Linked DNA regions of Homo sapiens. The protein of the gene in region 4 purifies or fractionates together with the protein of the main gene of each other region. This does not show direct contact. Each region holds a gene or a part of one and is shown on either strand. Other genes may lie near its edges. The genes, in order: SPAG9, NMT1, ZER1, CYS1, UNC119B, NAPA and EDRF1.

Region 1 (4,240 bases), on a different chromosome or scaffold from region 4:
AGGAGCAGAAAAGATAATAAGACATGGTAATGAAATACAGCAGTTAATATTCAGACAATTACTATGGCTGTCTCTTATTTTGGGTTTTGTCATAGTTTCTTCTCAAGTGAGAGAGAAGGGAGGGATACACACATACAAATAGTAGGGAGAAATATAAAGAATGACCTAAAATAAATTAATAAACTGAAATATGTTTAATATTCTATCACAAAACCTTTCCTTTGAATTGTCAGGGCATATTTAGTAAAAGATATATAACCAGGCTATCAAATTCAAACATGACTTATTCTTAAATTAATAATTCAGGCCAGGTGCGGTGGCTCACGCCTATAATCCCAGCACTTTGGGAGGGTGAGGTGGGTGGATTTCTTGAGGCCAGGAGTTCAAGACCAGCCTAGCCAACATGATAAAACCCCATCTCTACTAAAAATACAAAAATTAGCTGGGTGTGGCAGCACATGCCTTCAATCCCAGCTACCTGGGAGGCTGAGGCAGGAGAATCGCTTGAACCTGGAAGGCGGAGGTTGCAGTGAGCTGAGATTGCACTGCTGCACTCCAGCCTGGGTGACAGGGTGAGATTCCATCTCCAAAAAAAAAAAAGAATTAAATATTAACCCATTTATGCCGGAGGTTGCAAATTTTTTTTGTAAAAAATCAGACCTTAGCGATGACCTTGAGCAGTAGGATATGAATAACTCCCACAAGCTTAGCATTCCAATAATGGACCACTAGGCATAAATGGGTTATTAATTAATCTTTCTTACTTTATACACTAAGAATATTAAACTTTAAAAAGGATCTAGTTTAAAGAGACTCTCATCTAGAGGGGATCTAGAAAAGGCAGGAAAGAAAATAAAATAATTCACTAAATGGGCCTAGATTAACCAACCCTTTAACGGAGGAGCCTAAAACAAACAGTTTTCTTTGGTTTGTTTGTTTTCTGAGACAGAGTCTTGTTCTGTTTCCCAGGCGGCAGTGCAGTGGTGATATCATGGCCCACTGTAGCCTCCAGCTCCCAGGGCTCAAGCAATCCTCCCACCTCAGCCTCCTGAGTAGCTGGGACCATAGGTGCACGCTACCACGCCCAGCGAATCATTAAGTTTTTTGTAGAGATGAGGGTCTCACTATGTTGCTCAGGTTGGTCTTGAACTCCTGGACTCAAGCAATCCTCCTGCTCAGACTCCCAAAGTGCTGGGATTATAGGCATGAGCCACTGGAACTATCTGAGTTGTTTTTTAATAAAATATTTGCATGAAAACTAAATTCAAAAAGGTCATCCACACCCATGTGGGAAACTTGTACAATGGCAGATTTAAACAATGGCCAATTTTGCTGATAACTGGAGTGAAAATTAGAGTAGGGGTGGGATTAAAATGACAAAGAATTACTTATAGAATGGAAGACAGTAAGTACAAAAAAAAAGAAAAAAAAACAGATCAGAGGAGAAAATGAACAGAAAGATTTTGACTAATATATAGTCACACACCTGGTAAAACCATTTTGGAAAATGATGGACAGAATATATGGTGGTGGTTCCACAAGATTATACTACTATATTTCTACAGTACCTTGTGCATGTTTACATACACAAATACTTACCGTTATGTTCCAATTATCTACAGTATTCAGTACAGTAACATGCTGTACAGGTTTCTAGCCTAGGAGCAATGGGCTATACCATATGGCCTAGGTGTGTGATAAGCCATACCATCTAGATTTGTGTAAATGCACTCTATGATGTTCACACAATGATGAAATCACCTAATGACACATTTCTCAGAACATATCCCCATTGTTGACTGATGCATGATTATACTTTTATAGATAAGATTTTTTTTTTAAATTGGAAGGTGTACAGAAGAAATGGGGGGGAATATCCAGCGAGAATGATGGAGCGGGAATACATGAAATTATCACAAGAATAGGTATCTTTTAATCCACCACAGTGACACTAATTAGTGGAAATCTTTTGACTGTTTGAGATTATTTTGGTTCCTTTTATTTGTGCACTTCACCCAGTTGCCTAAGTTGATGACCCATTATTATACCTCGACTGATACACTGGGGAGAGGTCTTCTGGGATCTGAACTCCCAAAGGATCTGTAAAGACATGCTCTGTGTAGACGCCAGTTTGGGAGATGTCCACTGTGTCTTCAGCTGACCCCGCATTCCCTTCTGTAGCTTCAGTTGCTTCTTCTGCTGTTGGAACATTTTCATCAACCTCACTATTTTCTGCTTCCATTTCTACAAAGTAAATAAAACACTATTCCAAGTCTGGGCTTTTCTCCTCCAATTATTTCCCCACACAAACCCCTGTTATAGAATTCCATTCCATCTACCCACTCCTTCACACTGTACCATGAAATTAAGAATTCTTCATTCCATTTAACAGTCATTACAGCATTTTTTTTTTTTTTGAGACAGAGTCTTGCTCTGTTGCCCAGGCTGGAGTGCGGCGGCGTGATCTTGGCTCACTGCAAGCTCCACCTCCCAGGTTCACGCCATTCTCCTGCCTCAGCCTCCCGAGTAGCTGGGACTACAGGCACCCGCCACCACGCCCGGTTAATTTTTTGTACTTTTTAGTACAGACAGGGTTTCACTGTGTTAGCCAGGATGGTCTTGATCTCCTGACCTCGTGATCCACCCGCCTTGGCCTCCCAGAGTGCTGGGATTACAGGCGTGAGCCACCACGCCCGGCCTACAGTATCTTCTTTCAAGTTCTTTCAACCTTGTTACTTAAGATCTAAATTAAGTCCATAATGAGGCATCTGAGTGTAGCCTTAGACTCTATACAGATGGCAGGTAAAGAGAATGGATATACCTGGTGGTTTATCCATCACTGGAGAAGCACCATTTGTACTAGGGGAAGTGGCAGCTCCCGTCACACCTTCTGCAGAACAACCAACCACTGTGATGCCTCCTAACAGGCTGTCTGTCTCTGCTGAGCTGTTGCTTGTCATACTTCCACATAAAGATGCTTTGTCTACCTGACCAGATTCTGAAAGATCTTCTCCTGCAGGGTAGTCTGTTTCTCGTGCACCTGAAAAATAAATCTTCTTGTAACAGCAAAGTAAACTTCTATAAATAACATTTTTTTTACTAAAACAATTACAGGTTTGAAATGAGAGTTATGCAGGTGAGATGTACAGGTAGTTGAATACAGGTAGCATTAAATTTACATAAACAAATCTTCACAATATGGGAAGGTAACTTAAAAAATTAAGAAAATACTTCTATTAACACAAGTGCAAATAAACATAAAAATGTCAGAAAATAAACTTTTTTTTTTTTTTTTTTGAGACAGAGTCTTACTCTGTCGCCCAGGCTGGAGTACAGTGGCATGATTCAGCTCACTGCAACCTCCGCCTCCTTGGCTTAAGTGATTCTCCTGCCTCAGCCTCCTGAGTAGCTGGGACTACCGGTGTGAGCCACCACGCCTGGCTAATTTTTGTATTTTTGGTAGAGACAGGGTTTCGGTATGTTGGTCAGGCTGGTCTTGAACTCCTGGCCTCAAGGGATCCACCAACCTCAGACAAGTCCTAGGATTACAGGTGCGAGCCACCACGCCTAGCCAGCTTCTGTTCTTAGTGAGCTCCTCAGCAGCCACAGGTTAAAAACAATCTATTATATCTGACAACATCAGCCAAAAAAAAATTCTTTTAAATCATCAAGACTACTGCTACTACTTGAAGTATAAGCTTCTATCCATTACTGTTAAAAATTAAATGCCCCAAGTATATAGGTTGATTAAGATATTAGTAAAACATTAAAAACTAAGCATTTATAATATAAAAATATTTACAATATAAAAATAAATCTCATTTTTTAATTTAGAAAATTGTTTTATTTATATCACACTAAAAACTTTTATTGCAGTAAAAATAATATATATATAAACAAAATTTGCCACTTTAACCATTTAAAAGTGTACAATTCAGTGGCACTAATATTTACAATATTGGCATTAATATTTATAACATTGTGTAGCCATCACCATTATTTTTTTTTTTTGGCGACAGAGTTTCACTCTTGTTGCCCAGGCTGGTGTGCAATGGTACAGTCTCGGCTCACTGCAACCTCTGCCTCCCAGGTTCAAGCAATTCTCCTGCCTCAGCCTCCCAAGTAGCTGCGATTACAAGCGCCTGCCACTGCACCTGGCTAATTTTTGTATTTTTAGTAGAAACGGGGTTTTACCATGTTGGCCAGGCTGGTCTCGAACTCCTGACCTCAGGTGATCCGC
Region 2 (4,240 bases), on a different chromosome or scaffold from region 4:
AGTAGAGATGGGGTTTTGCCATGTTGGCCCGGCTGGTCTCGAACTCCTGACCTCAAGTGATCTGCGCACTTCAGCCTCTCAAAGTGCTGGGACATTTTTGAGGCAAATACTGAGCCTATGGAGGAATTCCGGTTTAGTATTTTTGGCGCTCTCAATAGAGAACACCATATTTTTGTCCCTTAAATGTAACAATCACAAGGACATCTTCTTTGAGGAATTGGAAGAGAGGCCTGAAGGGTAGAGATTTCAGATAAAAAGCTGAAGAGAAAGAGTTAAAGAAGCATCCTCCTGAAGTTACTAAATGTATGGCTCATAAATCTATGGGCTCTATAGGGAAAGGGTTAACTGCCAACTTAGTAAAGCTGGGGAATTTTAGCGTGAGCATATTAGTTGAACAATGTGAAAAATCAGCAAAACTGCTGTGCCATGAGCAGCGAGTCCCTGAAATAGGCTCTCATTTACTTTCCATTTCTTCTGCTTTCCAGTCTCTTCTCTTTGAAGCAGCTCTTGATTAGTTTCTTTTTAATTGCCATTTAATTGGGAAACAAAATTAGAACACTTATTTGATATCAGTGATGAGGTTTCTCTTTCCATTCTGCTTTGATCTAGTTTTGAAAAACCAAAAGTTGAAGGGAGAAATTAAAAAGGAACTAAAAAGATTTCTTATTTCCAAGAGCTAGCTGCAGCTATAAGCCATCAAATAAATAGGGAAAGAACGACTCTTGGAGAAGCTGAAGAAAAAAACAAAAACAAGTAAGGCTAGCTTTATGGAATTTATTTTCAGAAAGACTTTTCTCTCCTCCTAAGTTTTCATAAGGGATAGTATCTCACAACCAGGAAATGAGGAGAACTTATAAAGAATCCATGTTAACCTGTCCCAGGGAGTAAGAGAGCAGGATGGAGATGAGACACCTCTTGTCAGAGGGCTCTTGACCCGTGCTTACCAGGATCTCAATGACACTGAAGACACTGCAAAATAAATTCCGAAAGATTCCTAGAACACAATAGTCTAAAAGTTCTTTTTTGTTCCAAAACACTCAGACAATCTTCACTTATTACCCCCAAATTAAAATCTGCCAACTGATGAGATTTATTCTTTGGCAATACTTCTTGGAAAGACTCTCATTAAAAAAAAAAAAAAATCAAATTAAACCATATAGATGAATCACGAACTACAGGGGGATGCTGCATAAAGGTTATCTTATCTGACTCTCCTCTCAATTGTTCAGGATAATTACGCTAGGCACGTAACTGGGGGAAATTGAGTGCAGTAAAAAAACAAACAAAACCAGCTGGATGCAGGAGCTTATGCCCACAATCCCAGCAGTTTGGGAGGCCAAGGTGGCAGCATCACTTGAGGCCAGCAGTTTGAGACCAGCCTGGGCTAAATAGTGAGACCCCATCTCTACAGAAACTTTTTAAAAAGAAAATTAGCCAGGGATGATGGTGCATGTCTACAATCCTAGCTACTTGGGAGGCTGAGGTGGGAGGATCGCTTGAGCCCAGGTCAAAGGCTGCAGTAAGCCATGATCACACCACTGTACTATAGCCTGGACGACAGAGCGAGGCCCTGTTTCCAAAGTAATAACAATAATTTTAAAATTAAATTAAAAAATTTTTAAATAGAAAAACTGAAGAGACGCACCCATACACACTGCATATGTATGCATGTATACCTATATGTATACATGAAGGGTTTGGGTTTTTTTGTTTTTATTTATAGAGATGGGGTCTCACCATGTTGCCCAGGCTGGTCTCGAACTCCTGAGCTCAAGTGATTTTTCTGCCTCAGCCTCCCAAAGTGCTGAGATTACAGGCATGAGCCACTACACACAACCACATGAAGTTTTATATTCACCAAATGTTTATGCTGATTTAATTACGGAGGAAACACAAGACCAGAAAAGTCAAGAACTAAATTCATATACAAAGAGACATAAGTAACTAATACAACTGGCCGGGCGTGGTGGCTCACACCTGTAATCCTAGCACTTTCGGAGGCCAAGGCAGGTGGATTGCCTGAGCTCAGGAGTTCAAGACCAGCCTGGGCAACAACGGTGAAACCCCGTCTCTACTAAAATATGAAAAATTAGCCGGGTGTGGCAGTGTGCTCCTGTAGTCCCAGCTACTCAGGAGGCTGAGGCAGGAGAATTTCTTGAACCCGGGAGGCAGAGGTTGCAGTGAGCCAAGATCGCGCCACAGCACTCCAGCCCGGGCAACAGAATCCAGTACATGAATTTAGCTCATTTTATTAGCATAGAGTACTATGACTTTAGTTCCTGAAAAAAAGGGGCAGGAGGCTGGGTGTGGTGGCTCATGCTTACAATCCCAGCACTTTGGGAGGCTAAGGCAGGAGGATCACTTGAACCCAGGAGTTTGAGACTAGTCTGAGCAACATAGCGAGACACAGTCTCTTTAAAAAAAAAAAAAGGCCCAGGAGAATAAGGGTTAGCTCGAACTATCATTAACCTTTATTATATATTACACATTTTAGACTCTCTAGCATTGAAAGGAAAACTTCTCTGTCAATTTTTACATGATTTTTGAGAACATTTTAAATAATATTAAGACAAAAAACATTTCAAGAAGCAAAACACAGTGGAAAGCACACAACAGTGGAAAGCTCCACAGCAAATTGGAGCTTCCTGGTTTCTGTAGGTATTTCTTTTTTTTTTTTTTTTTTTTTGAGACAGAGTCTGGCTCTGTCGCCCAGGCTGGAGTGCAATGGCGCAATCTCGGCTCACTGCAAGCTCCGCCTCACAGGGTCACACCATTCTCCTGCCTCAGCCTCCCGAGTAGCTGGGACTACAGGCATGCGCCACCACACCTGGCTAATTTTTTGTATTTTTATTAGAGATGGGGTTTCACTGTGTTAGCCAGGATGGTCTCGATCTCCTGACCTCATGATCCCGCCCGCCTTAGCCTCCCAAAGTGCTGGGATTACAGGTGTGAGCCACCATGCCCTGCCTCTGTAGGTATTTCATAAAAACTGTAGTGAGGCTTACAATGAGAATTATTTGGGGAGAGAAAATGTGTATGTAAGAAAAATCTGACATCCTCTCACTTGGTGAGGGGAGATGAAACTCCACTAATACTGGGCTAGGCACTTTAATATCTGCCATTCATTCATACAGCAAATACTCATTAATGCCCACTAAGTGCTAGGCATTTCGAAGACACAATCCTGTTTACATGCTCCTTACTGTCAGATGAGACAGGTACCAGACACATTAAGAAAAATTACCAAACATGTAGTTATATTTATTGTTATTATAACTATTGTTACGATAAAAGCTACAATACAGTATGTGATAAGAGCAGAGGGGCAAGCTGGGAGGTTAGGGACGATCTGAAGAAAGAGGAGGAGGGAGGAAAAGGAGTGCATTCCAGATGTTATCTCATTAATCCCTACAACTCTGAGTTAAGTACCTTTCCCAAGGTCACAGGACTGTTAAGTGTCAGAGCCAAGCTTTGAGATGAGATTTTGAGATCAGAGGCTTGCTCTGTCGCCCAGGCTGGAGTGCACTGGAGAGATCTCAGCTCAGTGCAACCTCTGCCTCCTGTTTTCAAGTGATTCTCCTGCCTCAGCCTCCTAAGTAGCTAGGATTACAGGCGCCTGCCATCATGCCCAGCTAATTTTTGTATTTTTAGTAGAGATGAGGTTTCACTATGCTGGCCAGGCTGGTCTCAAACTCCTGACCACAAGCGATCTGCCCACCTCAGCCTCCCAAAGTGCTGGGATTACAGATGTGCGCCACCGCGCCTGGCCTCAGACCAGATTTAAATTATTCCAAAGTCCATGCTTTTCTACTGTGCCGTGCTGCATTTTCCCACATTGCTGCTTCTCCCCAAAACCATTTCCTCTCAAAGTTCATGGAAAAATGTTGACTCTACCCCAGATTCTTAGTGCCAGAATTAGACTCTCTCCTCCAGACTAGGCCCTTGGTTTTTCACCTACTACCTCCAAACTCATTTTCACAGATCTTTAGATTTGGGACGCTAATAAACATAATTTTTTCACCCAGACCATAACCATGCACAGAGACACCACTGCAAACTGTCAAAGTTTTTAAGGTTATCACTTACTTCTACTACAAATAAAATAATTTTATTTATTTATTTTTTTGAGATGGAGTCTCGCTCCGTTGCCAAGCTGGTGTGCAGTGGCGCAATCTCAGCTCACTGCAACCTCCGCCTCCCGGGTTCGAGTGATTCTCCTGCCTCAGCCTCCCGAGTAGCT
Region 3 (4,240 bases), on a different chromosome or scaffold from region 4:
CCCCTTTAATTCCTTAGTGTGTGTACCCAGCACTGACCTAGGAGCATTGGAGGGTAGGAGGGCAGCATATATGCCCCCTCTTTGTCTAGTTGGCATGGCCAGATGCCCATGAAGCTTTTTGGTTAACAATACCAGATACTAAGTCATTAAGTACTAATTGATGCGGCCCATTGGCTCTCCTTTTCCCAGGAATTCCCAGAGAAGCAGGAACTGCATAGGAATATGCTAGGACTTTTGGGGAATGTGGCAGAAGTGAAGGAGCTGAGGCCTCAACTAATGACTTCCCAGTTCATCAGCGTCTTCAGGTTGGTATTTTTAATCCTTTCCCTTTTTGCCTTAGCTGCCACAATGCTCAGAGCTCTAGCGTTTGCTCAGTTGCACAACTGCTCTTAGCCTAGGTTTGCTATAAATGTCATTTTCCCTCGATAATGTGGTTTCTTATTCATTCAATCCTTCGTAAGTGGTCCTTTTGTAATTATATCTTTTTTTTTTTTTTTGAGATGGAGTCTTGCTCTGTCACCCAGGCTGAAGTGCAGTGGCACAATCTAGGCTCACTGCAAGCTCTGCCTCCCGGGTTCACGCCATTCTCCTGCCTCAGCCTCCCGAGTAGCTGAGACTACAGGCGCCTGCCACCACGCCCAGCTAATTTTTTTGTATTTTTAGTAGAGATGGGGTTTCACCATGTTAGCCAGGATGGTCTCGATCTCCGGACCTCGTGATCCACCTGCCTTGACCTCCCAAAGTGCTGGGATTACAGGCGTGAGCCACTGCGCCCAGCCTGTAATTATATCTTAAATGACCTCAAATCCCTTTAGAAGTAGTCTGGGTATATAGACGATATGGGATAAAGAAATAAGTAGCACCTCTTGCTTCTGGTTTTAAGTTGGGGTCCTGCCGCTGGTATCTGAAGAGAAACTGGGGGAGTGGGACTCCATTTTTCTGTCTTTCTCCTGGCAGCAACCTGTTGGAGAGCAAGGCCGATGGGATCGAGGTTTCCTACAATGCCTGCGGCGTCCTCTCCCACATCATGTTTGATGGACCCGAGGCCTGGGGCGTCTGTGAGCCCCAGCGTGAGGAGGTGGAGGAACGCATGTGGGCTGCCATCCAGAGCTGGGACATAAACTCTCGGAGAAACATCAATTACAGGTGTGGGCAGGGCAGGGAGCGGGGATGCGGTGTGGAATATGGGGTAAGTGCTGGGCAGGATGCTCATACCATTAAGGTCTGCTCAGAGCTCCCACCTTCCTTCTGGTCTTCTGTAGGGTTCTGCTTTCACTCATTGATACGTAGCCGCACACAGCACAGAGCATACATAAGGGCACGATCTCATCCGTGCAGCCTGGAGCATTTGTCATACATGCCAACATCTGCATGTACCCAAAGCCTGCTCTTTGCAAACCACTAATACCTACTGATTTGTGGGGAGGGGTGGGGAGAAAATAGACACACAACAGAAAACCATACAGGTGGGCCGGGCACAGTAGCTCTTGCCCATAATCCCAGCACTTTGGGAAGCTGAGACAGGAGGATCACTTGAGCCCAAGATTTCCTTTCTTTTCTTTTTTTTTTTTTTTTGAGACAGAGTCTTGCTCTGTCGCCCAGGCTGGAGTGCAGTGGTGCAATCTCAGCTGACTGCAAGCTCTGCCTCCTGGGTTCACGCCATTTTCCTGCCTCAGCCTCAGAGTAGCTGGGATTACAGGCACCCGCCACCACGCCCGGTTAATTTTTTTGTATTTTTAGTAGAGACGAGTTTTCACCGTGTTAGCCAGGATAGTTTCGATCTCCTGACCTCGTGATCCGCCCACGTCGGCCTCCCAAAGTGCTGGGATTACAGGCATGAGCCACTGCGTCCAGCTGAGCCCAAGATTTCAAGACCAGCTTGGGCAACATAGTGAGACTTCCTCTTTACGAAAAATTTTAAAAATCAGGCCAGGTGCAGTGGTTCACGCCTGTAATCATAGCACTTTAGGAGGCTGAGGCGGGCAGATCACGAGGTCAGGAGTTCAAGACCAGCCTGCCCAACATGGTGAAACCCCGTCCCTACTAAAAATACAAAAATTAACCTGGCGTGGTGGCACATACCTGTAATCCCAGCTACTCAGGAGGCTGAGGCAGGAGAATCGCTTGAACCCAGGAGGCAGAGGTTGCAGTGAACCGAGATGGCGCCACTGCATTCCAGCCTGGGCAACAGACCAAGACTCCATCTCAAAAAAAAAAAAAAAAAAAAATGAGCTGGGTGTGATGGTGCACACCTGTAGTCCCACCTACTGGGGAGGCTGAGGCAGGAGGGTCACTTGAGCCCAGGAGGTCGAGGCTGTAGTGAGCCAACATCATGCTACTGCACTCCAGCCTAGGGGACAGAATGAGACCATTTCTTTAAAAAAAAGAAGAAGGTCAGGCGCGGTGGCTCACACCCGTAATCCCAGCACTTTGGGAGGCAGAGGCGGGCGGATCATGAGGTCAGGAAATCGAGACCATCTTGGCTAACGCAGTGAAACCCCACCTCTACTAAAAATACAAAAAATTAGCCGGGCGTGGTGGCATGCGCCTGTAGTCCCAGCTACTCGGGAGGCTGAGGCAGGAGAATGGTGTGAACCTGGGAGGCGGAGCTTGCAGTTAGCCGAGATCGCGCCACTGCACTCCAGCCTGGGCGACAGAGCGAGACTCCGTCTCAAAAATAAATAAATAAAAATAAAAATAAAAATAAATTAAAAAAACAAGAAAACAAAACAGGGCCGGGCACAGTGGCTCACACCTGTAATCCCAGCACTTTGGGAGGCAGAGGCGGGCAGATCATGAGGTCAGGAAATCGAGACCATCTTGGCTAACGCAGTGAAACCCCACCTCTACTAAAAATACAAAAAATTAGCCGGGCGTGGTGGCATGCGCCTGTAGTCCCAGCTACTCGGGAGGCTGAGGCAGGAGAATGGCGTGAACCTGGGAGGCGGAGCTTGCAGTTAGCCAAGATCGCGCCACTGCACTCCAGCCTGGGCGACAGAGCGAGACTCCGTCTCAAAAATAAATAAATAAAAATAAAAATAAAAATGAATAAAAAAAACAAGAAAACAAAACAGGGCCGGGCACAGTGGCTCACACCTGTAATCCCAGCACTTTGGGAGGCTGAGGCAGGCGGATCACCTGAGGTCAGGAGTTCGAAACCAGCCTGGCCAACACAGTGAAACCCCATCTCTGCTAAAAATACAAAAATTAGCCAGGCATGGTGGTGGGCACCTGTAATCCCAGCTACTTGGGAGGCTGAGGCAGGAGAATCACTTGAACCTGGAAGGCAGAGGTTGCAGTGAGCCAAGAACTCGCCACTGCACTCCAGCCTGGGCAACAGAGTGATACTCCATCTCAAAAAAAAAAGAAGAAGAAGAAAACAAGAATCGTTCATAATCTCACTCCCTGAAAGAGAACTCCTGTTGACATTTTGGTGTGTCTCCTTCCAGCAGTGTTTCTATGCACAGATTTCATTACTTTAAGTCAAGCTGGCATCAATTCCTACTGTTTTGTGACTGACTGGCCAATCACCAGGCATGGATCTCCCTCGTCATTTTAGGACGGAGTCACTTTCTTTGTGCCATCCTGTACAGATGGACATTTCAGTTGAAAACCCATACTGGGAGGAACAGGCTGACATTGGTAGCGTTGCCAGTGTGCCAAGTACTATAGTTCTTGGGGAGAAAGGAAGCGGAATCGCTGGCCCAGGAGTTTTGCACACACGTGTTTCAGGCTTTTGGACCATGACTCCAGGCTGGCCCACAGAAGGCCCTCGTCAGAAGAGCAGTCACAGGCCGGATGCGGTGGCTCACACCTAGAATCCCAGCCACTTTGGGAGGCCAAGGCAGGAAGATCACTTGAGCTCAGGAGTTTGAAACCAGCCTGGGCAATATAGTGAGCCCTCACCTCTACAAAAAAAAAAATTTTTTTTTTGAGACGGAGTCTCGCACTGTCACCCAGGCTGGAGTGCAATGGTGTGATCTTGGCTCACTGCAACCCCCGTCTCCCAGGTTCAAGCGATTCTCCTGTCTCAGCCTCCCGAGTAGCTGGGATTACAGGTGCACGTTACCATGCTCAACTAATTTTTTGTACTTTAGTGGAGACGGGGTTTCACTGTGTTGCCCAGGTTGGTCTCAAACTCCTGAGCTCAGGCAATCCACCCCCCTCAGCCTCCCAAAGTGCTAGGATTACAGGTGTGAGCCATTGCACCTGGCCAAAAAAAATTTTTTTTTAATTAGCC
Region 4 (4,240 bases):
GACTCCGTCTCAAAACAAAACAAACAAACAAACAAAAAGGGTTCTCAGGCTGGGCGTGGTGGCTCACCATGCCTGTAATCCCAGCACTTTTTAGGAGGCCGAGGTGGGGGGATCGCTTGAGCTCAGGAGTACAAGACCAGCCTGGGCAACATAGGGAGACTTCGTCTCTACAAAAAGTACAAGAATTAGCCTTGTGTGGTGGCATGTGCCTGTAGTTTCAGTTACTCAGGAGGCTGAGATGGGACCGTTGCTTGAGCCCAGGAGTTGAGGCTGCAGCGAGCTATGATCAGGCCACCGCACTCCAGCCTGGGCAACAGAACAAGACCCTGTCTCGAATAAATAAATAAATATGCCAGGCGCAGTGGCTCACACCTGTAATCCCAGCACTTTGGGAGGCTGAAGCGAGTGGATCACTTGAGGTCAGGAGTTCAAGACCAGCCTGGCCAACATGGCAAAACCCCACCTCTACTAAAAATACAAAAATTAGCCAGGTGTGGTGGCATACATCTGTAATCCCAGCTACTCTGGAGGCTGAGACAGGAGAATCACTTGAACCCTGGAGGCAGAGGTTGCAGTGAGCCGAGATCACGCCACTGCACTCCAGCCTGGATGACAGAGCAAGACTCCATCTCAAAAAAAGTGAAAAATAAAAATAAAACAGGTTCTCCATCTCAGCACGGGGACCGCAGCGATAGAGGTCAAGGCAAAGCCACACCCATCAGAGGGTACTGGGCCAGGCTGGGAGAACCCTGGGGAGCTCCTTGGCATTGAACCAAGTACACCAAGGCCCGGAAGGTGAGGAGACGGGAGCATGAAGACGCTGTTGTCGCGATCCCTTCTTACCCTTGCCCTCCCCCTCCTCACCTGCTGAGCGTTCACAGTGACCCTAGAAATAGAAGTGCGTGACTTCAGGGTGTGTGTTTGGCCTTGATTTTGAATTCTAAGAAGGGGGCATGAGCTGTTGGATCACCCAGCCTCTGTCTGGCTTCAGTGACAGGCATCTCACTGCCTCCTGGGGCAGCCTTTCCCTCACAGGCAGCTCTGACTTAGTCCTCTGTGTTGAACACAACCCACCTCCCTTTAGTGGGGACACACTGAGCCCCTGGGACAGGCAGAAGAAGTGTGGCCTGTTTCCACATGAGCTCTTCAGATATTTGGAGCAGCTACTCTGATCGCTCAATTTATGTCATGGGAACTTTGGACACTGACAGGTTGCTTTCTGGCCTTATTACACATTATCCAAAGTTTCCTCTGCCTTGCATTCCATTAGGCTCATGAAACCTCTATCTTCTATGATTAAAAAAAAAATTTTTTTTAAATATTTTTTTCGGCCAGGCGCAGTGGCTCACACCTGTTATCCCAGCATCTTGGGAGGCTGAGGCAGGTGGATCATGAGGTCAAGAGATCGAGACCATCCTGGCCAACATGGTGAAACCCTGTCTCTGCTAAAAATACAAAAATTGGCTGGGCGTGGTGGCACGCACCTGTGGTCCCAGCTACTCGGGAGTCTGAGGCAGGAGAATCGCTTGAACTCAGGAGGCTGAGGTTGCAGTCAGCCAAGATTGTGCCACTGCACTCCAGCCTGGTGACAGAGCAAGATTCCGTCGCAAAAAACAACAACAACAACAAAATAAAAATAATTAATTTTTTTTCCTCCAGAAAGGGTAATAGGAGATAAACTCTAAGTCTTTGTATGTCTGAAAATATCTTCATTTTCTTAATACCTGATTAATAGTTTATTTGGAATTAAAATTCTGAGTTCAAAATAGCTTTCCCTTATACCTTTGCAGCCATTATAACAGTGGATTCCAGTGTCACTGATGAGCAGGTGAGGCCACCTGACTCTTGGCTTTTTGTAGGTGGCCTGTCTCCGCCTGCTCATCCCTTCCTGGAGACTTTTATTTATTTTTTAAAATTTAATTTTTTTTTTTTCTGAGACAGAGCCTCGCTCTGTCACCCAGGCTGGAGTGCAGTGGTGCAGTCTCAGCTCACTGCAACCTCTGCTTCCTGGGTTCAAGCAATTCTCCTGCCTCAGCCTCCCCAGTAGCTGGGATTAGAGGTGCCCGCCACCACACCCTGCTAGTTTTTGTGTTTTTAGTAGAGATGGGGTTTCACCACATTGGCCAGGCTGGTCTGGAACTCCTGACCTCAGGCGATCCACCCGCCTCGGCCTCCCAAAGTGTTGGTAGCCACCACGCCTAGCTGGTTCATCTTGATTATTCTTTCATGTGCCCTCCCCCTTTAAATGTTTGTGAGTCGTTTTATGACCATTTATATTTATGAACCAAAAACTGGTTGACTAGCACATGCAGTTGGAGTGGGTTTCTTTGTAATCGTGTACACCTATTTACCCAAAAGTTTTTTCCTTTGAACAGAAAGATCTTGCAAGCTCTAGGAAGTTGTAAGCTCAACCCAGGCACCTCTTATGTTTGCAGCCTAAATTCTCATCACCTGGTGGTCCAAAATACTTGAAAGTATAGATTTAATTTGAAGTGGTTTCAGACCAGGGATGCCTGCTATGTGCCTGACAAAAGCAAATGCATCCCCTCTCTGGAGGAAGGCCTCTTAGGCCTCAAAGAATACCCAGAGGGAATTTTTCAATGATGACAAGCTGCCAATGACAAAAAATAATCAACTCCCCAAAGAACCAAGTGAAGACTTAGAAGAAACAAGAAACAAAAATATACCAATGAAGATCTTAGTTACTAGGATCACCAGACACAGACTATAATCAGCTACGTTTATTATGTTTAAAGAAAACACCTGCAAAGGACAAGGACTATAGAAAGTGACCTAGAAGATGTGAAAAAGAACCAAATAGGACATCTGGAAATGGAAAATATAATAAGCAAAATGAAAGATATCAATGGTATAAGTTTAACAGATTAGACAGAGATGAAGAGAGGATCAGTGAGATGGAGAGAGGGAGATAGAAATGACCCAGAACACAGCATAGAGAGACAAGGACCTGATACAAGATAGCTGGAGAAGAAACTACAGCAAATATCATATTCAGTCATGATGTGATGGAAACTTTTTCTTTCAATAAAGGATTAAGATAGAGATGACTGTCATCATCACTTCCTTTTACTGTACTACTGGAGGTCCCAGCCAGTGCAGAAAGGTTAGGGGAAAAATGTATAAGGACCAGAAAGGGAAAAATCAAATGGCCATTATTCCCAGATCATGTGAATGGGAAATAAGAAAATCCAAAGGAAGCCATAAATTACTGGAATTAATAAGAGAATTCAGTAAGACTGCTAAGCACAAGATAAATTCATATATCTCTGACCAGGCCCAGTGGCTCACACCTGTAATCCCTACACTTTGGGAAGCTGAGATGGGAGGATTGTTTGAGTCCAGGAGTTTAAGACCAGCCAGGGCAACACAGTGAGACCCCATCTCTACAAAAAATGAAAAATTAGCTCTTCATGGTGGCACGAGCCTGTAGTCCCAGCTACACGAGAGGCTGACATGGGAGGGTTGCTTGAGCCTGGGAGGTGGAGGCTGCAGTGAACTATGATCAGGCCACTGCACTCCAGTCTGGGCAACACAGCAAGACCCTGTCTCAAAAAAAAAAAAAAAAAAAGAAAAGAATTTTTTTAAAATGTATATATCTCAGTCATTTCTGAAGCATCAAGCAAGTAGAAAATTTTATTTTAAAAAGATAACATTGCTGGCTGGGCACAGTGGCTCACGCCTGTAATCCCAGCACTTTGGGAGGCTGAGGTGGGCAGATCACCTGAGAGGTGAGGAGTTCGAGACCAGCCTGGCCAACATGGGAAAACTCCATCTCTACTAAAAATACAAAAATTAGCTGCGTGTGGTGGCGGGCACCTGTAATCCCAGCTACTCAGGAGGCTGAGGCAGGAGAATCACTTGAATCCGGGAGGCAGAGGTTGCAGTGAGCTGAGATCGCACCATTGCACTCCAGCCTGGGCAACAAGAGCAAAACTCTGTCTCAAAAATAAATAAATAAAATAAAAAGAGATATCCATGGTATCTCTATAGGGAAAATGATAACTTCTTAGAAGACACTAAAGGAGTCCTAAATGAATAGATATTCCCTATTTATAAATTTGAAGACTCATTATTGTAAAGCTATAAGTCCCCCTAAAATGATCTATAGTTTAATACAACCCTAGAAAAATCCCCAAGGTTTTTTTCCCCCAAATATGACAAGCTGATTATAATACATGTATAGATGGTCCCTGATTTTGATGATTCAACATAGGATTTT
Region 5 (4,240 bases), on a different chromosome or scaffold from region 4:
CTGAAGGCTCAGACTGCATTACGTAACTCTGATCCACCAGGAAAGTTCCAGAAACTACTTCAGTAGAAAGGTAGATAGGAAAACCCTCCTAAACAAGAAATGTACAAAGAGCTTCGGAGGCAAATCCCCATCAAAAGCCAATCCTCCAGGCTGTGCAGTGCAGAGAAAAGTCAAATCTCTCCTTTAGAAAGCTGCTGCTGATTCGTAAGCATATCCTCCCAACATAAGCCAGATTAGCCCCTGGAAGCTGATACTATCAGAAGTCTAACCACATATCACATATGCTGGGAACACCACTGTCATTTTATAAAACCTCCCCGAAAGAAGTCTGGAAATAAAAAAACAAAATACAAGACCTGCTCTGGCCTCAAGAGATACTACTGTTCCATGAGCAGAGCTGACTCATTCTATTTCATGAGACTCAGAAGGGAGGAGCCAGGAGATGTGGAGCAAGCTTGTCTGTCCTCCAAAATGGGAACAGAAGGCACTGCCAGGCTGAAAACTTGGTCTATTCCCAGGAGGGCTGGCTGAGACCCTGGAAGTCAGACAGAGCAGCAGCCTCTCCACAAAGCAGACCCTTCAGCTTGGCAGCATCACCCATTCCTTGGTGCCTCCACTCTTGGCACCTCCCTCCCTCCCCACCCTTTCAAGTGTCTTCCAGTTGGTTTAAGACTTCACACAGACCGAGGGCAGACTGCGCTGATGGCAATGCCGGAGGTGAGAGGAGGAGCTACCTGGAAGAGGCCTACCTTTCAGCTTCCCACAGCACCCAGGAACCTTAAGAGCTGCTGACCTGCTGGTGGGCCTGGCCAGAGCCTTCTCACCAGGCACAGCTATGCCTGGTCGTCAAGACAACCAACAGGCAGCCAGAACTACGGAAAATAAACTTTTTTATCTGGATTCCAGGACCCTTATCCTAACCTTTTACTTTACTATAGTACCTCTGCAACCTACGGGGCAGGAAAAAAAGGGAAGAAAAAATACTGGGGAAGAAAACACAGCACTGTTTGGCAGCTCCTTTGGCGCGCAGGAAACTGCCACCCCAGCCTTGGCTTCCTGGGGCCAGGTTCCAGATGTGTGTTGACAAACTGCAGCTTCGATCATCTCCGTGTGCCAGGATCTTGTGGCCGCGGCAAAGCACCTCCCCTATCTACTCTTGCAGCACTTACTGGCCTCCATTATAGGCATAATCAGCCTTGTTGTGCATTATCAGCTTGTTGTCAACAAAGTAGAAGCTGTCAGAGCGGGTCTCGTAAGGATTTTCAATCATTAGACGAACTGCAAGTCAGGCAAAGGGGGAAGAAAAAAGCAAAGAATTATGTTTGAGTCTGCCCCACAGGGTAGGTGGGAGAAAACTTTGCATCCCCTCCAAAATAAGCCAGCGCTTCAGAGTATACTCTGCCAGAATAACGATGAGGTCAGAACAGAGGGAGGCAGCCCTTGACAGCTGGGGAGACCACAGAGGCCCCCCAGCTGAACATGATCTCCATTTCAACATAAGGATGCAATCAACTCTCCACCATGGCCTCCTCTGTCATCTCCAGCCTGGATTCTTCAGCCAAGATACCAGGGAAATGTGCTCACCCCTCTTCCCAACATGGACCCCACCAACCTATTTACTCAGTGCTCTCAGCTGACCAAAGCCAGCCCTGGCCTCTGGTCAGTGGCCCACCTCTAGACATTCCACTCCAAATTCAGAAATCTGAGCCTCACTGTGCCCACCTCCACACACAACCCTGACAACCCAAGGAAACCTAGATTGGAATGAGTGCAAGGAACACAGGGCAGGGAGCCTTCTCCGGAGACCTTCTGGGTATTAACTCGCAAATGATTCAGCAATAGGTCTGCCTGTCTTGGGATCTAAAGTAAAGTCTTGTTTGTTCAGGCAATTGCCCAGACCTCTTTAACCATACTGGAGAGTAAAGATAATTAACAGTCACTACCTCTGATCAGTTTTGAGTTAATGATTACATGCCATTTTGAGTCTTTAACCATACTGGAGAATAAAGATAATACTACCTCTGATCAGTTTTGAGTTAATGATTACATGCCATTTGGAGTCCCCTGGAGGAAATGCTGTTGCTCACCACAGTTCTCAAAAAGTGAAACTGATTTTTTAAAGTTCTTTGAACCCACCAATGCCAAAACTACTCGGTTTATATGCATAATATTGCCCTCCAGGCTGATTTGGCTTCATGGGTAAAACTTATAACACTATACATCATCTTTTCTTGCAAGTATCTACATATTCTAGCCAGCTTGGGAAGAGGGGTTCAAGTCAGAACCAGATGCTGTCGTCAACACCCTGCCCCACATCTCAGCAATCCTCATTTTACCTGGGAACTGTACTGCCACACGATTAAAGGTTATCTGGTTTTCAGAATATGACAATTCTTAAGGACCTGGGATTCTGAGAGGACCAATCAGTGATGCCAGCAAGGCAACTACAGGCATCACTAGTCACAGGATTCTATTCACACCCTCATAAATGACTTGAATTTTCCCTAACTATTCACAAAGGATGCGAACCTGAGGTGGCTAGGCCAAAGTTGCAGAAACTGACAAGGGCTGTTCTTTCTCTCTCGTTTGGTCCCCATCTTCCCTTGCCGAGGCTACACGGCAGCAGCCTTCTCCCTCTGGTGCCCTCCCCAGGTCTAGGCCACTCTTCCTCAAACAGTATTTCCACCTTCTCACTCCTGCCCCAAAATCTACAACAGCCCCATTCCTTCCTGCTGGATCTATCTCAACACTTTATCCAATCAACTCTCTATCCTGCAGGGAATGGAAAAGAAGTCCTCTGGCCTTGATTCTATTTAGCCTGCAGTTTCACATCTAGCTCTGATTAAGAAAAAAGTGAAGGGCCAATGACTAAAACACAATGGAAAACCATGACTAACAGTGCACAGGAGAGGTGCTTTATCTGATCAGCGTCCCAGGGATGGTCACAGGCCTCCTTTTATCTCCCTTAGGCACTGTCTTCCCACAGGAGGCATCTAAAAGGATGGCCTGTATTATTAAAACCTTCAGACCGGCCGGGCGCAGTGGCTCAAGCCTGTAATTCCAGCACTTTGGGAGGCCGAAGCAGGCGGATCACGAGGTCAGGAGATTGGGACTATCCTGGCTAACACGGTGAAACCCCGTCTCTACTAAAAATACAAAAAATTAGCCGGGCATGGTGGTGGGCACCTGTAGTCTCAGCTACTCAGGAGGCTGAGGCAGAATGGCATGAACCCAGGAGGCAGAGCTTGCAGTGAGCCGAGATTGCGCCACTGCACTCCAGCCTGGGTGACAAGATCAAGACTCCGTCTCAAAAAGAAAAAAAAAAAAAACCTTCAGACTGAGCACAGTGGCTCACGCCTGTAATCCCCAGTACTTTGGGAGGATGAGGCAGGTGGATCACAGGGTCAGGAGTTCGAGACCAGCCTGACCAACATGGTGAAACTCTGTCTCTACAAAAAATACAAAAAATTAGCCGGGCATGGTGGCAGGTGCCTATAATCCCAGCTACTCGAGAGGCTGAGGCAGGAGAATCACTTGAACCCAGGAGACGGAGGATGCACTGAGCCAAGACTGCGCCACTGCACTCCAGCCTGGGCAATAGGGCAAGACTCCGTCTCAAAAAAAAAAGAAAAAAACAAAAGGGCCGGGGGCAGTGGCTCACACCTGTAATCCCAGCATTGTGGGAGGCCGAGGAGAGTGGATCATGAGGTCAAGTGTTCGAGACCAGCCTGACCAACATGGTGAAATCCCGTCTCTACTGAAAATACAAAAACTAGCCAAGTGTGGTGTAATCCCAGCTACTCAGGAGGCTGAGGCAGGAGAATCGCTTGAACCTGGGAGGCAGAGGTTACAGTGAGCCGAGATCGCGCTGCTGCACTCCAGCCTGGGCAACAGACAGAGCAAGACTCTGTCTCAGGGGAAAAAAACAAAAACAAAAACAAACAAACCCTTCATTGCTCCCATACGGGCCGAGTCAGAGTTTAGAACAGGAGCCAGGAGCAATAGGAAATGAGAAGCCTGAGGTCAAATGACTAGATACGCATCATGTCAGCACTGCCACGAGACAATGCCAGGGCGCTGGACCAGATGGGTTTCAAGGTTTGTTCCTTGTAGCCCTCAGAATCTAGAGTGCTGTAAGGGTCAGGGGATACATACTGACATCCTCCGAAAGCTGGGGAAACTCATAGATATGTTCACAAGTGTTCCTACTGCTGGGGATGCAGAAGCCAAAATCAAAGTC
Region 6 (4,240 bases), on a different chromosome or scaffold from region 4:
AAGAAATCAAATGGGTTAAAAGATGCCAAGCATCTGGTACACAGTAGAAACCCAGTAAATGGCAGCTGGGGAGGAAGTGGGGGACAAGCAGGGGCCAGGTCGCTTCTCTGCCCCAGGTACACACACTGCCCCCACCCCCAACTATCAGGCAGGCCTGGGAAGAGGCCTCGCTGGCCCGAGTCTGCCCTGAGCAGCAGCCATGGTTGGGTAACTGAGGAACCAATAACACATATGAGCATCACCCTTCCCCACCCAGAGCCACCAAGGTGGCAGCAGGCCACCCTCTGCGAGAGGGAGAGGAATTCGGGAGCCCAGTCGGGCCTCAGGCACACTCCAGCTGCCACTTGGGGGCAGGTCCTTCTGGAGGGAGTCCTGGAGGAAGCCCTAGAAGTGCTGACCCAAGACAGAGGCCTTCTAGGCTGCTGAGGAGACCAGTGATGAGGACGGCCCCAGGGTACCGGCCACCTGCTTGGGGAAGCCAGGCAAGGTTCCAAATCGGGCCTCCAGCGCTGTCTCACAAGGCACCCGGCCAAGGGCAGAGGCTGTGGGGAGCCCAGGGCAGGCAGGGGCCCCTGGACTGATGAAAGCCAAGGGTGTCCTGACTGGAAGTTTATCACACACCAGGTGCCGCGCTGGGCATGACTGCATCATCTCACAGCAGTCTCTGCTTTAACAGACGAGGAAACAGAGGCCCAAAAGACTGACTTGCCCAGGATCACAGGGGAGGCAGGGTCCTCCCAGACCACCCACCACCTGCGCTGCTGAGCCACACACAGTTGCTACATGACATTCTCTGTGAGGCTTTTTTTTGGGGACAGGATCTCACTATGTTGTCCAGACTGGTCTTGAACTCCTGGGCTTGAGCGATCCTCCTGCCTCAGCCTCCCAAAGCACTGAAATTACAGGCATGAGCCACTGCACCTGGCCTTGTGTGAGGCCTGACTAGCCTCAGACACAAAGCAGCCACTGCCCTTGATGCCAATGTGCCCCTTGCCCCACTGGGAGTCATGGCTGGCGTGCGTATCTTTAGGCTGTAGCTCTGGAAGCTGCACTAACACCCTTCCCTGCTCAACACCACGTCCCCAGGGCTCTGGACACGGCACCTGCTCTCAGCTCTACCCAGGTGAGGCTCTCCTTTCAGAACTGCCCCCTTTCTTCCTTGAAAGATCTCCCATAGCCAAATTCACGCCCCCAGCCTCAGCTCTGTGCAAGTTGGCCTCTGTGCCCTGGATGTAACATCATCTTTATACTTTCCTACCGGTCGGAGTCCTCAGCCACCTTCTGAGCTTCCTAAGGCCAGGGAGGGGCCACATCCAGACTCCAGGCCCACACCCTGCAGAGTCTCGCTGGAGAGCTAGAAAAGCTCAGATCAAACGCAGGGGAGGGACCCCACCATATCCCACTGCCAGGCAGGGCCTGTCTGCAGGAAGTGAGGGGTCTGCTGAAAGAGCAAATGGCACTCTCTGTTCGGCAGCCTGGCGCTCAGTGTTGCCCCAGAGTGTCCTTCCAGTCACTCCAGATGGGGCAGCAGCTGAACGTCACAGATGCTAAGACAGCACCTCTAGGCCAACCAGTTTCCCAGGGAGCAGAAGGAAAGGCTTGGCGGGGCAGTTTAATGGAAGGCATGGAGACTCCATGTGGTGAATCAAGCTTAAAACCAACCCAGGGTCTCCCTGGGTCATCACTGCATCAACCACGCAGCCTGCTGTGGCCCAGTGCTACCAGCCAGGCAAGCCCCATGGCCCACCCAGTTACAAGGCTGCTCCTCGGCCTCTTGCCAGGCCTGAGCCCCACCATGTGACCACTGAGGCCAACGCATGAGATGCCCAGCTGCTGAGGAGCAACTGGTCAGTCTAAGGACAGAGAAGAGCTACTGGTCAACACAAATTCATCCTCATCTGGGAACTAACACGTCAGATCACGACAAAGGGGTATGCCAGCAGTTCTCAAACACGCCATGTGAACCAGTGCTCACTGATCCATGGAGGAAGCTCCCTGCACTGCTGCAAACCTGTCTTCTCTTGGGAAGGACAGGCTTTTATTCCAAGATTATATAGCTGCTTTTTATTTTTTAAAGATTCATATATTTTCCATTCCCCTGAGATGACAGTGACAATAGATGGTCATTTTTAAAAACTGCCTGTGCTTTCTAATTAGCAACCTGTACCTGGCACCAACATTTTAAAAAATAAATTAAAATTCCCGCCACATGCAAGCAAACACTGGGCTGGACCTCCTCTTCGGGAGGCACCCAGGGGGACAAAACTGTTTTCTCACCATGAGTCAGCCCCAAACTGGGTTTCTGTCCCTAGCACGCTCTCATTTTAAGTAATTTGTTCTCTGGCAACTACATCTCGGGCTCTGTTCTCTCTAATTCCTCCCCAGGATGTAGGGAAGCCAGGTTGGGCTAATTTCCGCTCCTTTTTCGGCAGCAACTCCTACCTGGCTGGTCTCAGAATCCTCCCCGCCCCCCACACCGCTCCCTTCTGCATGTTAATTCTGACAACAGAACAGATTTTCCTCTCTCCCCGGCAGGCGGTGGGTCTGCAATGGAACTCCCACTCCCAAATGCTCCGGGATTGGGAAGGGGTGATCAGCTGCACCGACACCACCGACACGGTAGATAGGGGGGCGGAGACTTGAGCAGGGCGCGAATGCCAACTGGAAGGAAGAGAGCCAGTTCTAAAGTCAACGCTCACTCTGCCTCAGGCACGCCCCTGCCAGCCTATCACATGTCGGCCACTGGAAAAACCAGAGCCGCCAGGAAACCTGAGGAATCAATGCAGGGTGCTAGGATGGCGCTCCGGACAGCCAGCCCGTGTGGCCCGCAGAGGCCCTCACCTTGGGGGTCGGCTTTCTTGAATGCGTTGCCAGCGTCCACAAAGCAGGTGGCTGCGTCGTGCTTGCTCTGGAGCTGCAGGTGCAGCTGTGCAGCCTGGCAGAACGCGTTTCCAGCAGCTGGAACAGAAGAGAAGGGCAGTCCTGGCCTCAGTGGGGCTCCACACTTTATGAAGCCACAGAGACACTGCCCTGGGAGGTGGGTCGGGCTCTCGAGAATGCGGAAAGAGTCCCCAAGACAGGACGAGGGTGACCTGAGCGAGCCCAGACCGAGGCCTAGAACTCAGGTCTCCTGGCTCCTGCGCTCAGGTCTGCTGGCTCCTGCGCTGAGGCTCCTGGTGGCCCACCTGACAGTCTCTGAGGGCGGCAGGAAGCTGCCTCGGGGGAAGGCCCTGAGCCCCAGGTATATGGAAAGAGAGCCAGGGTAAGCCCAGGTAAAACACCATGTCCCTAATCCCAGCTATGCCAGCATTTCCAGGGCCACCACTTCTAAAGATCCAAGGAGAAGGCAGATAGAGCTGAGTTGGAAAGGATATAAAACAGAGTGAGGTGGCCTCCTGCACCTCCCGGCCTGGGCAGTCCTCCCCAGGGGAGCCTCGAAGCACAGGGCCCAGAACCACCACTAGAAGGCAAAGTACAGGCTGAAATCATGGGGTGGCTTCGGAGGGGTATTTTGGGAAGCAAGGGGCAACTGAGATTAAACCACATAACATCTTCCCATCTACTCCCCTTTCCAAGTCCTGTTTCTTTTTCCACAGCTCCCCAAAGCTCTTCCTGATTCTCCCAACTCCTCTGCCTCTGTTCACATTCTGTTCCCTTCACTGCAGATCCCCATGGACAAGGCACTTGCATGAATTGTGAGGCTCATGGAGTTGGGGTCGGACAACACAGAGCCGGCTCCCTCCAGGAGCTGCATGTCCAGAGAGGGAAACAGGATGTGGACAGCAAGAATGAATACATGCAGACCAGTGCCCATGGGCGGAGGGCAGAAGAGACCGTGCCTGAAGCCTCATCCATCCTGTGCTCATCTGCACACGGTCAGCTTCTGTGGGTCCCAAGCCATTCTGCCCACACATCTCCTAACTGACGTTTGGGAGGCAGCAGCATCTCTCCTCCTCCTCGTGCAGCTGACCACCTCCAGCTCAGCTCTGAGGCTTCTCCCCTTCATTCTCCTCCAGCTGAATCTGAGTCAGAGTTTCTAAGCTGGAAGAGGACCAGGAGGCCTGGCCCTATCCTCTTAAGTTTTGAGCAGCAGAAAAGACAAAGCCTTCCGGGTTTTCACTATATGATTTCATTATTTTCAAGAGTTCCAAATTTGAGTATAAAATTACGGCCAGGCGCGGTGGCTCATGCCTGTAATCCCAGCACTTTGGGAGGCCGAGGTGGGCGGATCACGAGATCA
Region 7 (4,240 bases), on a different chromosome or scaffold from region 4:
CCCGTAAGTCCATGGCCTAGTGTTACAATGCAGTTTTCCAGATACATGTAACTTTTGCAATCAATGATTATAACCAGAACATTTTTTCACTCCACTGTGGAAGTTCAAGCTGAAAGTGAACTAAAATTTAGATGGACAGTTAATGACTTTTTCCTGCAGTCATTTAGTCAAATATTTACTGAGCACCCATAATGTGTTCTAGACATGGGAGATAGAGGGTCTGTACCTGCAGGGAGCTTACGTTCTAGTGAAGCAAGACAAACATTAAGAACTTCAGGAACAGATAGGCTCCTTGAAGGACAAAAAAGTAGAGCATGCTTTGGCCAGAGTGGTCAGGGAACATCTCCCTGAAGAGGCAACATTTCAGTCAAGACTTAAGCCTTAAAAAAGGCAGCCATGAACAGACCTAGGGTAGGTACATTCCAAGCAGAAGCAACAGCAAATACAAAGACCCTCCAATGAGCATAATCTTGATGCTTTTGAGAGAAAAAAAACCCAGCATGGCCACGGCAAACCAATGGAGCAAGTGAAGGTCAGAAAGATGGTCAATGTTTTAAGGTGACAGACATAGCCCCTCAAAAACTTGCTTAGAGTTTCCATCTGAAAGTTACACTCAGTGCTTAAATTAAGAGATTATCTGTAAATACGACTGTATTTCAGTTCAGGGAACAGCCAGAACTCTTAAGGCTGGCCTGGATCTAATCATAGGGAGACGGTATGTTGAAAGGTATATACTGCCTGGAGATACACTGATGGTAGAGTCAGTGCAATCCACACAGGGAGAAATCTGTCTGGCCCTCTCCAGGGCAGAGACATGTCCAATACAACAGACATGACCACAAGAGTCACGAAAAAAGTACTGTCCTATATAGCACAGGGATAATGTACCAGAGCTCACCATATACAGTTCCAAGAGCCACCCCCTTCTCTACTCTATGTTCACCAAGCAATCTATATATGTCATTTCCCAGCAACCCCAACACCGGATAGAAGTGCCCTAGTAATGAGACATGACTATGACTACACACTGGTCACTGGAAAGGAAAATCCTTCACATAAGAATAGACAGACACCTGGTTTACACACCTGTCCACTATAGGCTTGCATAATGTGGGTCAGTTACCCTCGAACAATTATAAAACCAACTTTAAGAATTCAGAAAACTAATGATTACTAGATGCTAGACCATGAAAGGTTTATTGAAGTAATGGTATCTTTTGAAAGGCTAACTATATTCGATTAACAATTATGTTTCCTTGATAAAAATTTAATATAAATTCTAAAGGCTTACTCTGATTTGATGAATAGATTTGTATTTTTCTGGTACTGATAGTTCTCCAACAGACTTGATTATAGCTACTGCTTTGCTATCATCTGATGGATCAGAGCTGGTGCTATAGGATCCATTTTCATCACTGTCGGGCATCTCTTCCTCCTCTTCACTATAACTTTCATCAGAATTCTCATTTAAAGGAGATTCTGAATTTTCTTCCTTTTTAGGTTCATCCAATTGAAAAAGTTCTGAAAGCATGTAATTGGCGGAAGCAATAATCTTATGAAAAAGAGAGAAATATGTGTAAATTACTGTCATCAAAAAATACATGAATTTTACTACCATACTAACGAATTTTAGGAGGAGGTCTGCACACAGGCTGTTTCCACCATATAGACTGTAACACACACAGAAATGTTCCCAGTTCAAAGCTACTGATACTCTGGGTATGCTCTGCAAAATCTTTATAGGCTGATGCATTTCCTATTTCCCGAAATTACTCCACCCTGAGCCCTCCCTCTTAAAAGGTGTCAACTGAATTTCACTGGAGACAAACAAAAGCTTTTGAGTACAGAGTGTCATAACTAAAATATTAACAAAAATTTAATACCACCCTATGCCAAGTGAGAAACCAGAATTTTTCTTTACAAACTATAAATTAATTCAAGTTTCTCTATAATAGGTAACTAATATTTATCATATAATCTATGGTTCTAGAAAAAAAAAACCATTACATTAAAAAGGGAAAAGTCCATTCTGATATCTCTTAAAATTAGCATTTATATATGACCATTTAACCCATTCTACTATTTATCAGTTCTTAATCACAGACAATAGTCTTTAACACCATTTCTAACATCCAAATAAACCACTCAAGTTCCACTAAACACTGCCACCTCAGTCAGCAATTAGGTATTTCAGTCAGAAACAAAATGTTTTACTATTTTTCTTCAAAAACATTTCTGAGTTTGGTCTCTAGGATAATCTTTATCTCTAAATCAAATGTGGCTACAATTAAAATTACTTTGGCTCTTCAAAGAAAAATTGCGTATCTTACATACCTTTACTGATTTGAACAGGATACAACAAATAGCCTTAACAGTGAAAAATAAAGTTGTCAATCAGACAACCGAGGGTAAGGATGGTGTAAAACTGTTGGGAGCATGACTGAGGGAATATTTTAAGAGATGCTTTTTCCCCTTCTCTTTAAAAGAAATTTTACTGGCCTTTATTTAAGAGATGCTTTAATATCCTGAAGTGTGGAATGTGAACCCTATTTATATTAACAAAGTGGTAACAAGGTCTAATAGCGACAAAACAAAGAACTAAGGGCACTACTGTTAGAATTACATGAATTCTAAATTCATTGAGCAGTGCTGTCTGAGAGAAATGTAACATGAGTCACATACAGAAATTTTAAATTTTCTAGTAGCTACATTTAAAAAGTAGAATCTGTGAAATCAACTTAAATATATTTAATCCAATATATGTAATATTGCATTTCAACATGTAATAGGTACAGACATCCAATCTTCAAAATTCAGTGTGTATTTTACACTTACAGCACATGTCAATTCAGACAAAGCACATTTTAAGTGATCAACAGCCACATGTGCTAATGGCTACCACACTGAATAGGGCAGTTACGGAATATGAATCAGGAGGCTTTACTGTCTAGGTAACAATCTCCTATTAGAATGCTAGGATTGTTTTAGAGAATACATAAATGTTAATCTTACTTGAGGATGCCTACTTTTGTCCAGTAATTTCAGACAATTAAGAAGCAATGTTCTAATAGTTCCATAGTGTTTCTTATTTTGATTCTTCTTCATCATCATGTTGCAAGCAACCCTAAAAAAAGAGTTTATATCAACTTTACTGCCCATTTCATCGTTGTCTGCAAGACTCAAGTCTAGGAGTGCTCTTGTTTCTTTCCAACAAAGAGCTATAAGAAACAACAAAATACTAAACTTTACACTTTACCCACAACCCCCAAAACGTTTATACTATGGTGGCATAAGAAAGCTGAGTAATATTTGGTACAATGTGTACGTGTATTTTTCCCCCTACTATGAAAACCTAAAAGCATTTAAAAGCCTTGGTTTGGAAACTGTGACTGTATGCTTTAAAACTTTATATAATAGGCTACTTCTTCATCTTAAATTCTTAAAGCACTCACTTGTACAAGAGAATGGCTACCGGCATTGTGAATGGATTTTGGTATTTGTCTTCAGTTTCTTCACAAAGAGTAGTGAGGTCATAGAGCTTCACTATATCGCTGCCACTTGCTGAAAAGAAAAACAAAGAAGACTCATTTCACAGCAGTTACCCAAATCAATTATTGTTCACTCAAGAAGTATTAATAGCTTACCTTTAAAGAGCCAATAGGTATGTCCTTCTTTGGTACAATTAGATTTCAAAAATGATAAAATATTCTGTGCAATGTCTTTTATGACTTTAGTAGAAAAATTAGAATTTTCCAAATTGGGAATTTCTTCTGTCTTTATCATTTCATATTTCTGTAAAATACAGACAGATGGAAAGCAGTTTAAGAGAAAACCCAAGGAAACAACACCTTTCTTTTTAAAAAGCAACCAAATGCAGAAGTCCTGCAAACAGAGACCTATGTAGCATGAAAGTGTTTAAACCAGTGGTTTTTAATCTTTTTTCTGCCCCAGCCTCCCAAAGGAATCTCATCCACCCCATCAGCAAGGGCAGTTCACTATTGGAGTAATTTCAATGGAGAATCACTACCAGATTTAGAACCTCAGATTCAGGCATGATCTTATTTCTGTTCTAACATGGAACAAATCATACTGACTACTTTTATTCCACTTGAATGGTTTTCAACTGGGAAGATGGTAAATGAAGGTAGGCTTTACCCAGCAAGATTTTAAAACACATGTATTTCTGGCCTTTTTTTTTGCTAGAAACTACAGTCAGTGACTCAAGGAGAGAGAATCATTT

Evidence for each region.
Region 1: the proteins of CYS1 (region 4) and SPAG9 purify together in Homo sapiens (affinity purification with mass spectrometry; one large-scale study listed by BioGRID and IntAct). This does not show direct contact.
Region 2: the proteins of CYS1 (region 4) and NMT1 purify together in Homo sapiens (affinity purification with mass spectrometry; one large-scale study listed by BioGRID and IntAct). This does not show direct contact.
Region 3: the proteins of CYS1 (region 4) and ZER1 purify together in Homo sapiens (affinity purification with mass spectrometry; one large-scale study listed by BioGRID and IntAct). This does not show direct contact.
Region 5: the proteins of CYS1 (region 4) and UNC119B purify together in Homo sapiens (affinity purification with mass spectrometry; one large-scale study listed by BioGRID and IntAct). This does not show direct contact.
Region 6: the proteins of CYS1 (region 4) and NAPA purify together in Homo sapiens (affinity purification with mass spectrometry; one large-scale study listed by BioGRID and IntAct). This does not show direct contact.
Region 7: the proteins of CYS1 (region 4) and EDRF1 purify together in Homo sapiens (affinity purification with mass spectrometry; one large-scale study listed by BioGRID and IntAct). This does not show direct contact.

Annotation. Positions count from the first base shown.
Region 1 is NC_000017.11:50,987,629-50,991,868, forward strand, and holds part of SPAG9 (C-Jun-amino-terminal kinase-interacting protein 4), read right to left. Parts: intron 3,041-4,240; coding exon 2,822-3,040; intron 2,245-2,821; coding exon 2,049-2,244; intron 1-2,048. UniProt on the Homo sapiens protein: The JNK-interacting protein (JIP) group of scaffold proteins selectively mediates JNK signaling by aggregating specific components of the MAPK cascade to form a functional JNK signaling module.
Region 2 is NC_000017.11:45,064,070-45,068,309, reverse strand, and holds part of NMT1 (glycylpeptide N-tetradecanoyltransferase 1), read right to left. Parts: intron 1-4,240.
Region 3 is NC_000009.12:128,736,837-128,741,076, reverse strand, and holds part of ZER1 (protein zer-1 homolog), read left to right. Parts: intron 1-189; coding exon 190-305; intron 306-957; coding exon 958-1,146; intron 1,147-4,240. UniProt on the Homo sapiens protein: Serves as substrate adapter subunit in the E3 ubiquitin ligase complex ZYG11B-CUL2-Elongin BC. Acts to target substrates bearing N-terminal degrons for proteasomal degradation with the first four residues of substrates being the key recognition elements.
Region 4 is NC_000002.12:10,066,756-10,070,995, reverse strand, and holds part of CYS1 (cystin-1), read left to right. Parts: intron 1-4,240.
Region 5 is NC_000012.12:120,716,958-120,721,197, reverse strand, and holds part of UNC119B (protein unc-119 homolog B), read right to left. Parts: coding exon 4,156-4,240; intron 1,279-4,155; coding exon 1,166-1,278; 3' UTR 1-1,165. UniProt on the Homo sapiens protein: Myristoyl-binding protein that acts as a cargo adapter: specifically binds the myristoyl moiety of a subset of N-terminally myristoylated proteins and is required for their localization.
Region 6 is NC_000019.10:47,497,792-47,502,031, forward strand, and holds part of NAPA (alpha-soluble NSF attachment protein), read right to left. Parts: intron 3,807-4,240; exon of another isoform or gene 3,666-3,806; intron 2,959-3,665; coding exon 2,842-2,958; intron 1-2,841. UniProt on the Homo sapiens protein: Required for vesicular transport between the endoplasmic reticulum and the Golgi apparatus. Together with GNA12 promotes CDH5 localization to plasma membrane.
Region 7 is NC_000010.11:125,732,956-125,737,195, reverse strand, and holds part of EDRF1 (erythroid differentiation-related factor 1), read right to left. Parts: intron 3,793-4,240; coding exon 3,645-3,792; intron 3,562-3,644; coding exon 3,453-3,561; intron 3,125-3,452; coding exon 3,013-3,124; intron 1,553-3,012; coding exon 1,292-1,552; intron 1-1,291. UniProt on the Homo sapiens protein: Transcription factor involved in erythroid differentiation. Involved in transcriptional activation of the globin gene.